Homo sapiens: one gene and its partners. The protein of the gene in region 3 interacts with the protein of the main gene of each other region in a pairwise test. Each region holds a gene or a part of one and is shown on either strand. Other genes may lie near its edges.

The links. Proteins that work in one complex are often made in the same cells at the same time.
Region 1: the proteins of SLC7A1 (region 3) and MGST3 interact in binary tests that used the Homo sapiens proteins (3 or more experiments, as listed by UniProt).
Region 2: the proteins of SLC7A1 (region 3) and LEPROT interact in binary tests that used the Homo sapiens proteins (3 or more experiments, as listed by UniProt).
Region 4: the proteins of SLC7A1 (region 3) and CBLIF interact in binary tests that used the Homo sapiens proteins (3 or more experiments, as listed by UniProt).

The regions. Positions count from the first base shown.
Region 1 is NC_000001.11:165,634,234-165,637,733, reverse strand, and holds part of MGST3 (glutathione S-transferase 3, mitochondrial), read right to left. Parts: intron 1-3,500. UniProt on the Homo sapiens protein: Displays both glutathione S-transferase and glutathione peroxidase activities toward oxyeicosanoids, as part of cellular detoxification as well as synthesis of bioactive metabolites.
Region 2 is NC_000001.11:65,433,588-65,436,507, reverse strand, and holds the end of LEPROT (leptin receptor gene-related protein), read right to left. Parts: 3' UTR 501-2,920; downstream 1-500. UniProt on the Homo sapiens protein: Negatively regulates leptin receptor (LEPR) cell surface expression, and thus decreases response to leptin. Negatively regulates growth hormone (GH) receptor cell surface expression in liver.
Region 3 is NC_000013.11:29,515,689-29,519,188, reverse strand, and holds part of SLC7A1 (high affinity cationic amino acid transporter 1), read left to right. Parts: intron 1-1,398; coding exon 1,399-1,616; intron 1,617-1,878; coding exon 1,879-2,045; intron 2,046-2,942; coding exon 2,943-3,051; intron 3,052-3,500. UniProt on the Homo sapiens protein: High-affinity, low capacity permease involved in the transport of the cationic amino acids (arginine, lysine and ornithine) in non-hepatic tissues.
Region 4 is NC_000011.10:59,839,000-59,842,499, forward strand, and holds part of CBLIF (cobalamin binding intrinsic factor precursor), read right to left. Parts: coding exon 3,444-3,500; intron 2,326-3,443; coding exon 2,144-2,325; intron 1-2,143. UniProt on the Homo sapiens protein: Promotes absorption of the essential vitamin cobalamin (Cbl) in the ileum. After interaction with CUBN, the CBLIF-cobalamin complex is internalized via receptor-mediated endocytosis.

The DNA of each region.
Region 1 (3,500 bases), on a different chromosome or scaffold from region 3:
AGGTACTTAACCTCTAGAAATTTTACTGACAGAGTTTCCTGGGAACACAGCTATTCAAATACCAAAATGTTGCTCAACCTTTCCTCTAATTCTTGCTTCTGCCACCATTTGACGTATCTTACTGGGGCAGGGTTCCTTTGGTTGCAAGGCTTACCCAGAAAGCTTCCTGAACTACATCCAATAGAACACTCCTGGGGTAAAGGTCTCCTTCACTACTTCCCAAATTCCTCTTGGCTGCCCATCAGAAATTCCCCAGCACACAATCAGCATTCCACAAACAAAGCAAAAGGCAGGCTTTATGGATTTGGGTACCTGCCTCAAATAATTTACCACTTCTGAGCCATGAAGTGACACTACCTTTTATTTTACTAAATGACAATGAGATTCTTAAGGGAGAGAAGATTATGTCTTTCAGCTCTCTCTCTTTGCTCCCAAATAAATAAAATCCAGCTTTGACAAAAGTAGTCCCTACTTCTGTGTATGATATTGCTCTCCTCAAATTGTACTGCAATTTCTCAACTGCTCTTTTTTTTCTTTTTAATGTGTCCAGGGATGGGACAATGACAAAGCATTCACAGATTAACTTGAAGCCATTCTCCAATGTTTCATTAAAATCCTTATTCGGCTGCCTGTGCTATTCCAATCTTCCTTACATGGCAAAAATCAATATTTTAATGAGAGTAACACACAAGGATAGTCACATAAAGGGCTAGTCTGATCATACCAAAAGGACTTCCCTGAGTCCCAAACACCAGACGGTAGCTTAGAACACTCTGAGGTGGTGCTGAGGGTCCACTTGGCTCACTTAAAGCTCCCCTGGATAGTTGTACAGCCTAACTTCTGCATCCAGATGTTTCCACGAAGGAACAAGCCTCAAAACCATCTCCAGCCAGGGCAGCTGACCCTCCATACAATGCTCAGCGGAGCTCACACAATGCTCAATGGAGAAATTAAAGAGCCTAGAGGGAAGTAACATAAAAACAATTTTTTTTTTTTTTGAGACGGAGTCTCACTGTGTTGCCAGGGTGGAGTGCAGTGGTGCCATCTCAGCTCACTGCAACCTCTGCCTCCCAGGTTCAAGTGATTCTTCTGCCTCAGCCTCCTAAGTAGCTGGGACTACAGGTGTGTGCTACCACGCCCCGGTTAATTTTTGTATTTTTAGTAGAGATGGGTTTTTACCATGTTGATCAGACTGGTCTCGAACTCCTGACCTCAGGTGATCCACCCACCTTGGCTTCCCAAAGTGCTGGGGTTACAGGCATGAGCCACCGTGCCTGGCCCATAAACGCAATCCTCTTGCTCATTACACAATGTATATACGTACTAAAACATCACACTGTATCTCATAAATATATCCAATATTATATATCTATTAGAAACAAAGTAAAACTTAAGCTGGGTGCAGTAGTGCACACCTGTAATCCCTGCTACTTGGGAGGCTGAGGTGGGAGGACTGCTTCAGCCTAGGAGTTTGAGTCTAGCCTGGGCAACATGGTGAAACCCCACCTCAAAATGACAACACACACACCCACACACAAAAACTTTAAAAATGTAATTATCTGTTTCTATGATAGGACAGAAAAGGAGAGTCATGGGATTTCTTTGGGTTCAGACTACATTTTCAGAATGCTAGTTCCAGTCCACTTCTACATTAAACAGATGCTAAAATCTGTTTGAGCGCCAAACCTTCATGACAGCCAGATTTAAATTACACTTAAAAGAAGGAACAGAAACCTAGGTAATGAAAAGTAACTATCCCCCGACAATTGCATTGCATATTCAGTAGATTGTTCCCTAAGGGCTAAAAACAAAAAGTTGAATAGAAATCATATTATTTATCCAGCACTTGATTACTGGTTCAAGTAAGGCAAATAGCAGCAAGCAGGTCCTAGAGTGGGTCTTTCACAGTACCTCACAGTCCATAGTCTTCAATATTCATCAATGTTGCTGGTGGAATATTTGGAGAGTGGAAGCTAACTATATGTTAGGAGGATGGAAGATCTGTCCCTTTAAGAGATAAATATGTTATAATCCAAATATATTCAACTGTATAGTTAAATAGCCATAGTTTGGCCATATAAAATATTCAAGTTTTAGATGTCGTTTTTATTCCAACACTTTGGTAAACTGTTGGTACTGAAAACAATTGCTTAATACATGGCTGCACTGGCTGGGAGTGGGGGAGGGAAGATCAGCAGGATGCTCAAGTTCCAGTGAATGGTTCTTGGTTATAGAGCACAAGCTTGCACTCACACGAACTCTGTTGAAACTCTGTTAAAGCCAAATAAGCAAATTACCTGCTTTCTTCTTCTCTGGAGTGTGCCTTCTGTGTAATAAGGCACTAAACACACATGCCTGATGAAATCTCCTCTGAGAAAAAACTGGTAATTCTGTTCTTCAGGAATCTAAGAATACTAGATTTATAACAAGACAGAATAAATTCCAGGTTCCCCTGCAGGTATAAGGACAAACTTTCCCAGATTCTTGACACAGAAGGTTCTGTGGGAGATACCTAACCTAGAAGCCCTGGGCTTTGCTAGACCCTTTGGAGCTGAGCTTCCCAAGAGATGTGATCCCAGGGACAACCCACTGGATGTTTCCCATGGTCTGCAGGCAGCAACCTCAGAGGGCGGGGTGGAGGGGGAGGGGAATGGTGAGAAGCCATGGGATACAGAAGGAAAAATAAAGACAACATCTCATAATGCATTAAATGAAGCTGATATGATAAATTCAATGTCGGACAAAGCATTTTACCTAAATGGGATGCTTGCCTCAAGTCCATAGCTATCATCTTCAGTATTTTCTCAGAATGATTCCTTCCCTTATTCATCCTTTACTAAATGCCATGTTCCACTCAAGGGGCAGGGCTACTATGAGAATGATCAAGAATGAGAAGGAAGGTCCTGACTCTCTAGAATACACAGTTGAGAGTGGGGGGGAGGGAGGGAGGGAGAGGGAGGGAGAGAGAGGGAGGGAGGGAGAGAGAGAGAGAGCGCATGATTGAGAGAGAGCACGAGTGAGCATGCAGTCAGGGAAGACAAAAACACAGCAGGACCATACCATAAAACATAAGGGTGACATTGCGACAAAGGATCTGAAGAGCATAAAGTGATATGTGAGAGAGAACACAGGTAAAGAAAACAGCAAGAGCAGAGACTTGGAGACAGAAAAAGGCTTGACTTGTATGAAGGAGAGAAAAGAGTCCAGTGTGTCTGAAGGGTAGTGATATAGACTAGAGGAAGAAAAGTAGGAGAAATCAATTATTATTACTTATTACCACCGTGCACAGTATTTAGTAAGGGGCAAACCTTGTTCTAAGCAGTTAGTTCATCAGTATTAACTCATTTAGATCCTCACAGCATCCCTATGATATTACTCCCATTTTGCAGATGAAGAAACGCAGTACCAGAAAGGTTAAGTGACCTGCCCAAGGTCACACAGCGATCACAGAGCACAGCCAGATCCCCACACCCCCAAGCAGTCTGGCTCCAGTTTGTGCT
Region 2 (2,920 bases), on a different chromosome or scaffold from region 3:
ACTTTACACTTAGCTTGGCAATGCAAAGAAATAACTAGCTTGATTTCTTTACAATCTGGCTGCCTAAATCCACTAGTAAAACATCAGATCTTTCCCAAATGTTTTGTGCATAAGGAGGACATATTATTCCTTAAAGACTACTTTCTATTAGTGCATTCTTTTCTGTAGTGTGCAAAAAGACTCTTCAAAATATGTAGAGCACTTTTCTTAAGGTGTCAGGTTTTTTTCTTTTCCAATACAGCTTTTCCAATCTTCCATGTCCACCATGGGGAGTGTCAGCCACAGAAATTAAGGCCTGGATTCCTTCCAGTCAGCACAACATTCCTGAACTGTTTCTCTTCAACTACAGCAAGTACAGGCTTCAAACTGGTCAGATTCACATTAAGATTATACAGACAAAAACACTGGGAAAATTAACTTGCTGATCTCCTTTCCAAATGTAACGTACCGCAAAGTAAAATATAAACTTTTTCATTTAATAATGTACATAAAAGCCTTTGTTAAAATGTCAATAACAAGTTTTATTTACAAAGTAATCGTCCTCTCACATCACATTTGGGGTTACATGTATCACTGTTGTACGCTGGTAGCATGGCTATTTGAAAGATTATAATTTATGAGCTATTACTCAGTGGGATTTTTGCAATAAGGTACTTCATGAGACAAAATGGAAAAAGGAGAATTAAATTAAAATGCACAACTAATATTTATCTACTACAGACATAATATTTCTCAGTTGTGAACTAATTACTATGCTTGGAAAATGCTAGCATCCTCATAAATATTTTGGTTCTATTGGGATACAAAATCTGATTTCGCAAACTTTGCAAAGGCACATTTTGGCTGGGCACAGTGGCTCAGGCCTGTAATCCCAGCACTTTGGGAGGCAGAGGCGGGCGGATCATGAGGTCAGGAGATCGAGACCATCCTGGCTAACACGATGAAACCCGTCTTTACTAAAAATACAAAAAAATTAGCCAGGCGTGGTGGCGGGAGCCTGTAGTCCCAGCTCCTTGGGAGGCTGAGGCAGGAGAATGGCGTGAACCCGGGAGGCGGAGCTTGCAGTGAGCCAAGATCGCACCACTGCACTCCAGCCTGGGCAACAGAGCGAGACTCTGCCTCAAAAAAAAAAAAAAAAAAAGAAAAGAAAAGGCACATTTTGTGACACCACCTAAGCATTTCCCTGAGAACATAAAGAAGGTTATTAACATAATGAACTATTTCAGCCTTGAAAACAGTATTCATTGAGGAGATACCTCAGAGGTAAGGACTTCCTTAGGACAGTAAGAAAAATCTATGAGTTCTTAAGTGGAAGAAAAGAAACAACTATGAAAAGCAGGACCAGCTCAGAACTCCTCCTGAGGAAGAGATGAGGTATGACAGGATTTTCCCTGTCCCAAAATATTGCTATCCTTCTATAAGCTGCTGGAATCTTTCTTCATTCCGTTCTCCCATTCTCTGTGAATGAGAATCAGTGGGTTATGAGGCATTCTCTAAAAACGCAGGTGCAGCAGTCATGGGAATGGCAGTCGGCCCAATGCAGGTGTCAAAAGGAATTTCAGATGTGGAGAAGATAATCACAAGGCATTCTTTCTGTGATGAAGTGTGATCTGCTTTCTTCTCAGCACCACATGACATCAGCTGTACTTAGAGAACTGACTAATGGGAGGAGAAGGGTGGGTGACTCTGGAATATGAAGAACCTCAGGAGGGAGGATGGAGCCCAGTGGGAAGGTTCTCAGTTGGGAGAGGTGAACAAAACTCCCAGGAGTGTACCTGGATCTCAAGGGCATTAGGAGGTGAAAATGAGTGGAAAAATTAAAAGGAGAAAGACCTTGTTCTTAGGAAAAGGGGTGGAAAGTTGCACTGTCCTTCCTCCAAACTACTCACACTACCCTGTCTCAGAGACCCAAAACTCAGGCAGGCACCTTCAGTATCACAGGTTAGGTATATTAGAGTTGAACCTGTTGAGGGAGGCTTGGCCTGGGAACTCAATCACCAATTCATAGTATTGTTTCTGTGGAAAAGTGTCTCAAAGTCTGCTTGTAACCCACTTGTTTGAAACATGATAAAGAATCCCTTCATAAGATTATTTACTTGTGGCCAATTTTGGAAGTGCAATCTCAGTTTTCGACTATAGTCACTATGCTCTGAATCTCCAAATATATTGTACAATATATAAAAAAAGAGCCTTTTATAAGGAAAAAAATGTCCAACATTTGTGTCACCATGATCAAACTTTTGTATTATATATTCAGATATAGCAATATTTCCTATTAATATTTACTGTTTAAATGATATTTAGGCACTGCAGAATAGCTCTCTTTTCAGACATAGAGCAAATCTAATAATCTATCACTTCAAATACTCTATATGCAAGTACTTTATATCAATCTAAAGATACAATCAAGAGGTAATGCTTTAAGGCTACATATGAAGGCTACCTTGGTTATTGAAAATGTGTATAAGCAACAAAAACACTTTTGCAAAATGTAGTAGAAATGAATCATTATTGCCATCTTAGAAAGAAAAGCTATTGCACACCAACTAGACATTCAAGATGGTATCCTAAAACTTATTGCTACTGTTCTGTTAGGACAGATTATTGCTCAAAACTGCCCATTTTAAAACATCAAGAAATTCTCTCATTTTTGTTATCTTTTCAGGCAAGGCAACATCACAAAAAAATTTTAAAGTTAAACTTTTAAAGTTAAAAGTGAAATTTATTACAATACAATAAATGCAAGTGTCATTATTAAAAATGCCGGTTAAAATTATAAAGTATCTAAATAATTTTTCTAATATAAATATTGGAAATGACAACTTTAACAATTCTATATGTACACAGGACACTGAAAACATAAAATCATGAACAAGGCCAAAAAATAACGTTGCACATTAACCCTTTAGTTATTACTTTC
Region 3 (3,500 bases):
TCTCGGTCCAACTATTAGGCCAGGATCCTGGGATCAGAAGGTTTGAAGACTGATTGCAACTTGGTTCAGATTCTTGGGACAGAGAGGATTGAGGGCTGCCCTGGTAGGAGTTAGGAAAACCCAAGGCCTGTGAAACCCAGCTCAGCATAATGCTTCTGCAGCTTCGTTGCGCTGTGGCTGGAGGAATGAATCCCATTATGTGGCATGGCGTGCCCTAGGTTGATGTTCAGAGACACTGTGGAGTCAGCTTGTTATAGCCTGGTGGGGGCCAGGCAAGCCTCTCCCAGTCACAGTAAAGCTGCTCTGGGCCTAGGCTTGGTGTCTCGGTGTTCTCACCTGCCTCAGCACCCACTCCCAAAGCACATCCCTGCGCAGCTTCCATCCTGAGAACCTGTGCTCATGGAGACGCTCAGCACTGGTCTCCCCTCAAGAGCCTCCTCATTTCTTTTCAGGGATTCCCACCTGCAAGGCCATTGATTGCATTTCCAAGGTGTTCAGCAGCTGATGCACATAAAACCCGGGCTGAGCCTTAGCAGAAGCTCTTTAGAATCAGCTAAGACTATTGGGGACCCCTTATTCCTCCCAAGGGGCCCAATGCTAGAATATTCTCTGAGGTCTCCCACTTTCTTAATTGACCGAGTGGGGTTGCACAAGTGAATCCATACAAAAATGGTTAATATCTTTATACTCCCTCTTAGAATTGATCATATGCAAAATAATTCATACAGAACTCTGTGTTTCAAAGCTGGTGGAAAAGATTTGCACTCTGTTCATTTCGGGTGGGAAGATAAGGCACCTCATTCAGAATGGATGCTCCACTAGCAGGTAGCTCATGTCTTGGAAATCACGCTGCAGGCTCGGCCCTCCAACAAGCCACATAGAATTATTTACCCTAAGGTACTTGGAGTTTTAAAATAAATTGATCCAATTAAGTCACACAAATAGAATTTCTCAAATCCATCTAGCCTGCAGCCACATTTCTCTGGCTCTCTGTGCCAAATAGGATCCTGGCATTACTGCTTCCTATTTCTCTCCTTCCCTTTTGCTCCCTACAGCAGTAATTTTGTGGGAAGTGGCCTAGTATCTTTAGCATCTGAGGGCCGCTGCCACTTCTCAGAGCAAGAGAGATCCTCTCAGGGTATTCCTCTGGGCTGCTCATGGTGGAGGTCATGTCGCCCCGAAGGAGAGACCATGGAGGATGTTCCCCAGAAGCAACAGCGGGAGGTGGTGTTCCCGGTCTCTCCTCGTCTATCTACAATGCAGCATTTGACTATATCCTTCCCATTTTATACCTTGTGTCCCGGGCAGCTCACTTTGGAGGCTTATTGAGAACTTGAGTTGGTGCACGTCATTTTGCTTGAAGCAGATGTGGCGGTCACGCAATGCCTTTCTTCCCAGGTACCAGCCAGAGCAGCCTAACCTGGTATACCAGATGGCCAGTACTTCCGACGAGTTAGATCCAGCAGACCAAAATGAATTGGCAAGCACCAATGATTCCCAGCTGGGCTTTTTACCAGAGGCAGAGATGTTCTCTTTGAAAACCATACTCTCACCCAAAAACATGGAGCCTTCCAAAATCTCTGGGCTAATTGTGAACATTTCAACCAGCCTCATAGGTAAGAGCTAGCCCTTCCCTGGGGCCTTGCTTGTTGGCATTGCATGGTTTCTAGGCAGTGGAGCTGGAGTTGGGGGAAGGTGCCAGAGAAGATGAGCATCTGTCTTGCTCCTGGACTGGGACATAGTTACTCTGTGTTAACTGTAGTTGTGCCTTCGGAAATGGAGCCTCTCTCTCCACAAGTTTAGGGGAGAACAGTGGATGCCTGTGGGAAATTGGGAAATGGTTGAGTTGCAGCTTGCTGTCTTTTCCTTCCCCCTTAGCTGTTCTCATCATCACCTTCTGCATTGTGACCGTGCTTGGAAGGGAGGCTCTCACCAAAGGGGCGCTGTGGGCAGTCTTTCTGCTCGCAGGGTCTGCCCTCCTCTGTGCCGTGGTCACGGGCGTCATCTGGAGGCAGCCCGAGAGCAAGACCAAGCTCTCATTTAAGGTGAGCAGCTCGGCCTAGGGAAGGAACCCTGGTACACAGACCCTGGCCCTCCTGATGCCTGGCCAGCCCTGCGTGGGCTCAGCCGGGCCTGGGTGCTCCCGAGGAAGGTTTTTGCTAGCCAGCTTCAGGTAAGATGGGGCAGGGGTCCTGAAGGCACAGAGAGGACCAGACCCTGGAAGGAGGCAGCAGCCCTTCTCCCCTGGACGTTTCCCTGAGTAGTCAAGGGCAGGCTGACACCTTCCTGCATGACACAGGCCAAGAGAGACCTCGCCAGTCCCTGGATATTCGGCATCTATTTCTGAATTCTCTGGAAAATAAATGTCCCTTGTGATCAGTGTTTTATGAAATGTGCTGCCTCTTCCCCAGACAGTATCAAGGGTGCTGCTCATGAAGCCACTTGCCCCTAAGTTTATACATAATAGCAGACCCAGTGGAGCAGTCCCTCCGGGGTGGTGGGATGCTTCTCGTAAATGTCTGCTCAAGTTGATGCATGAGTTTTCCAAGCCTTGGAGACGGGCAAGGCTTCTGCATTTTTAGATTACACAAATAATAAAAAAGGTTGTTGACCTTAGAGGTAAAGTGGAGGTCCGTCTTCTAGTCCTTTCTTTAGCAGGAGAATCGCAACAGAGAAAAATGAGAATGGAGTTCATTTGGCCATTCAGAGCTTAGAATCAAATCCCCACCTACTAAGATGTACCCTTGGGTGTGTTTGTGTGTGTGTTTGGGTGCGGGCTGTGTGTGGGGTGTGGGAGTGGGGGTGGGCACTCCCTCTCTCTTCCCCACACTCGCCCGACGGTCCCTGTCACTCTCAGTTGTGCTGCCTTTACTAGACAGTTTTACTGAACTATTGGAACCGGCGCCACTGCCATGGATTGAAGCCACCTCCTGTCTCTTCAGGTTCCCTTCCTGCCAGTGCTCCCCATCCTGAGCATCTTCGTGAACGTCTATCTCATGATGCAGCTGGACCAGGGCACCTGGGTCCGGTTTGCTGTGTGGATGCTGATAGGTATGTGATGCTGCTGCCAGCACGTCCAAGATCCTGGCTTCCCCTGGGGGTCTCCCTTGTTTCAGATTTCATAACAGAATGACGCACATCCAGTCAGCAGCTTTCTCGAAGATAATGCTGAATCCCTGGTAGGCTGTGAGTCCTCTCCTCCCTGTTAGATACTTTTTGTTTCCATTGCTTCTTGTCCAAACTATTTATTCTTTTGGGCAAGACCTTGATATTAACAGGAACAAGGTGATGAGTCTGCTGCAGATAAGGTACCAGTTATTTTCACCCCAGACAGGAAAGTCTGGCCTGTGCCTCCTGGCCCCCTGGCCTGCCCAGCACCAAATTGGTACGGGCACTAGGCCCAGGCAGGGTGGATGTCATGGGCTCCTCTGTGATTGCGTCTTCTCTGTGGAGGGAGAGTGCTTTGGAGCCTATGGGAGATGCCACTAGGGTGGGGAGCT
Region 4 (3,500 bases), on a different chromosome or scaffold from region 3:
CAGCACACCAGGCTAATTTTTGTATTTTTAGTAGAGATGGGGTTTCACCATATTGGCCAGGCTGGTCTTGAACTCCTGACCCCAAGTGATCTGCCCGCCTCGTCCTCCCAAAGTGCTGGGATTACAGGTGTGAGCCATCACGCCTGGCCTATCAGATCCCTTTTCAAGATAAGCGCCTATCAGAGGAAACTTGAAAGCAATAGGATATTCATGGAAGAAAGATGAGAAGTTCTGGAACAGAGGAAATGCCTCATGAGCGTCTTTGGGTAGGGAAGAGTGTGGCCTGGGCCACTGGAAGTGTACTGACATCTTGGAAGAAGGTGAACAAAGGCTGAAAAGGAACTTTACTAGCATCACTGCTCTGCTGAGACAGATCTTGAACAATTGTTAAGCATTACATTATGCATGCATTTTTTTGCATACCACATTTTATTTAACCTAATTGCAACCTTATTATTATGGGGAAAATAAAATCTGGGGAAATTCAATATTTGTCTGAGATGGTGGCAGGTGTGGGAGTCAAACCTAAATTGTGATAGTTCCAGAGCCCTTTGATTTTCTATATCAGAATATTTTAGATTAGGAAAATATTATATATTAGACACCTATTGATTCCAGATTTCAGGATGCCTAAATAAGTTCCAGATAGAGGCAGTAAAAAGGGTAGGGAGAGATTATGTATTCTGACAAGAAATCCACATGGCCTGTGGTATTTGGATGTAGACAGGGTCCTGCCTTTTGATAGGAAAAGCTCTAATTCCCAGGTACAGCTTATCAAAGTGTACTTGGCAGGTGATAAAATCCAAACAGAATTCACAAACCAAGTTAGCAAAAGTAAACACTTCACTGTCTGGTGATAAATTGAAGCAAGGTTATTTTTAGAGAGTCACACATAAAAAAAAAAAATCCCCAAACCATCTTTTATATCTCTTCCAGACTGCCTTTTTCTTTCCAAAAAGCTTCTAGACCAGAGCACTGGGAATGTTCTTGTAAAATTCAGCCATGGAAAAAACAGGGTTTTGTTCTATGACAAAGTCTCCTTGACTGTGACATAGAAATGAACTCTATTTTTATTAGTCACTTCTATATGTGGTCCATTGAAGTGGAAATTTTTTTTTTTTTGCTCTTATGTTTAACATGAACCAATTCTTAGGCTGCTTATATCCTTTTCTAATTTTTAATGTATGAAATCTCAATACTAGTCTCCATTGTTTTCCCCAGGAGACAATTTCTTTCTAATAGTCCGCAACTATGTTAGGTTTAGGGCTGGCATCACCATTCCATGATTCTCCCTTTAGTGGGCTTTCTGAGTTGAAGAGTCCCTGGTCCTATTAATCCCCATAGGACATTTTGAGACACTGGAGCTCAAACTTCTTAGTTGGGATTAGAGGATTCAGCCACAGATGGTTGCTAGTTTCTGATTCTAGTTGGTTATTTCTGCCCACCACCATTGGTGCATCTGTCTTCTATGGAGGCTGCTGCCCTAATCAACTAGGGTAGGGTGGGTTGTTGGATTTGGAACTATGAATACCAAACACATCTTACAGAATCCAAGCCTGGGAATGCATGCTGTGAAAGCACAGAATTGAATATGGACTTGGCTGACAGATAGATCTGCTTTACCATTTACTATGGGTTTTTGTGAGGCTGGGTCAACTTTAGGTTATTTTCCTTAATCATTTTGAGTATAAACTTGCTATTTTTAGATCAAGGTAAAACACTGAAAAAGAACACTTGGCTGGTAAGATTGCATCAGAAAATTGTATATTTTTAGAGGGCCTGCTTTAATATTCTTATTATTTATACATCAAAATTGTAATAGTCTGTAACTATTACAAATAAACTGATCATTATTAATAATAAATTAATATATTTCTTGATTTATTTGTTTCATTTTTTTTCCCAAGAAAGAGAAACAAGTTCATATAGATTTGTTTTCACACTTTACATAGGAGGTAGGGAGGAATTAACACTTACCTGCATTTTACCAGTAGAGAAACTGAGGCCCAGGCACCACAAAGAATATATCTCAGGTCATACTAGCTGGACTTTCACAGAGATGTTAGTAGAAGCCTGGCCTCTTGATTCTGCAATCCAGGCTTATTGGCAGGAACCCAACCAAGAGCATCCAGCACGTGTTTACCTGCATGGCGAGGCCAGTACTGTAGATGTCTCCAATGATGCCATTATCTTTGATCTTCATGCTGATTTTCTCCACAATATCCTTTAGTACCTGACCAAACAGGGATCTGTAACCTTCCTCTGAACCTACAGGGATCTTGTTGTACATACAGGTCAGAGCCAAGGTTGCCATTGCTCCTGTGTCTGTGAATGACAGAGGGTATAAGATCACCATAGTCACCATCACAGCAATATGAACAGCTAACATTTATTGTGTGCTTATTATATTCTGGCTCCATGATTTTATTTGCTCCTCAGAACAACCTGTGAAACAGTACCTGTAATCATCTCCATTTAAGAGACAAAAAATGGAGGCTCAGAAAAATTAAGTAAGCAGCAGGGCCAAATCTCCATTTGAAAGTTGCATAACTTCGTTAAGGGTGCTAGTGTTACTGACAACCAGAAGTAAATAAGTCCAAATTTTTGGAGGCAGAGATGCCCCAGAAATGTGTGAGGTCCCAGATGTGAAAGGGAGACCAGTCTGTTCTTAACCCCCAGGGAGGATCCTAGAGCAGTGGTTCACCTGTTTGTCTGACAGAAACTGAAACAAGAGAGGTTGCTGATGGGGCATGCATAAGGGAGTGAAAACCTGAGATAATACTATTGCTTAGAGAGTTGGCAGAGGAGAAAAGGTGATCATGAATGCGGGCTGTGACAGTGGCCCCCACAGAGAAGGATCATTATCCATAGAAGGGGACAGAAGGAGGACATGATGTTGTAGAGGGAAAAGCTTCTATTCACAAGCAGCCATATGCTTGCAGAACAAAGACGCAAGGTGGTCCCCGAGTTGCCATGAAGGGAAATATCACGAGTTAGGGTTCCGAGAGTAGCTGTTTAATGGAGAGAGGATATTTGGATGTAATGAGGAGAAGCATCGAAAAGAATGGAGTGTGGGAGCATCAGTAGTGATTAAAGAGAGGATGCAGAGGAGAACTGAAGCAAGACATTCATATTTAATTTGGGAAGAACTTCTGACTTGAATGGCATTACTATTGTTCCCAGCGGAGATTCTGTAGCTGCCAGACATATCAAGTATTATCAATTGTCCTTGTTTCTACATAATACTACCCCCTCTTCCTTCACTTACTCCTCAATTCACCTGCCCAACAAACATCTGGTAAATATCTCCCATCCACAGGCACGTTCACATCCTTAGCTCCTCCTCCATGGGACGCTCTCCTTTGTCACTTCCCTGCCAGCTCCACCATTCAGTTCACGATGCCTCTGATGTTCCCAGCTCGGGGTAGTGGTGACCTACTCACCTACATTGAAGGGAGAGGAGTTGGCCAGCAGGGTCTTGGCAAAGCGGACGGCTATCG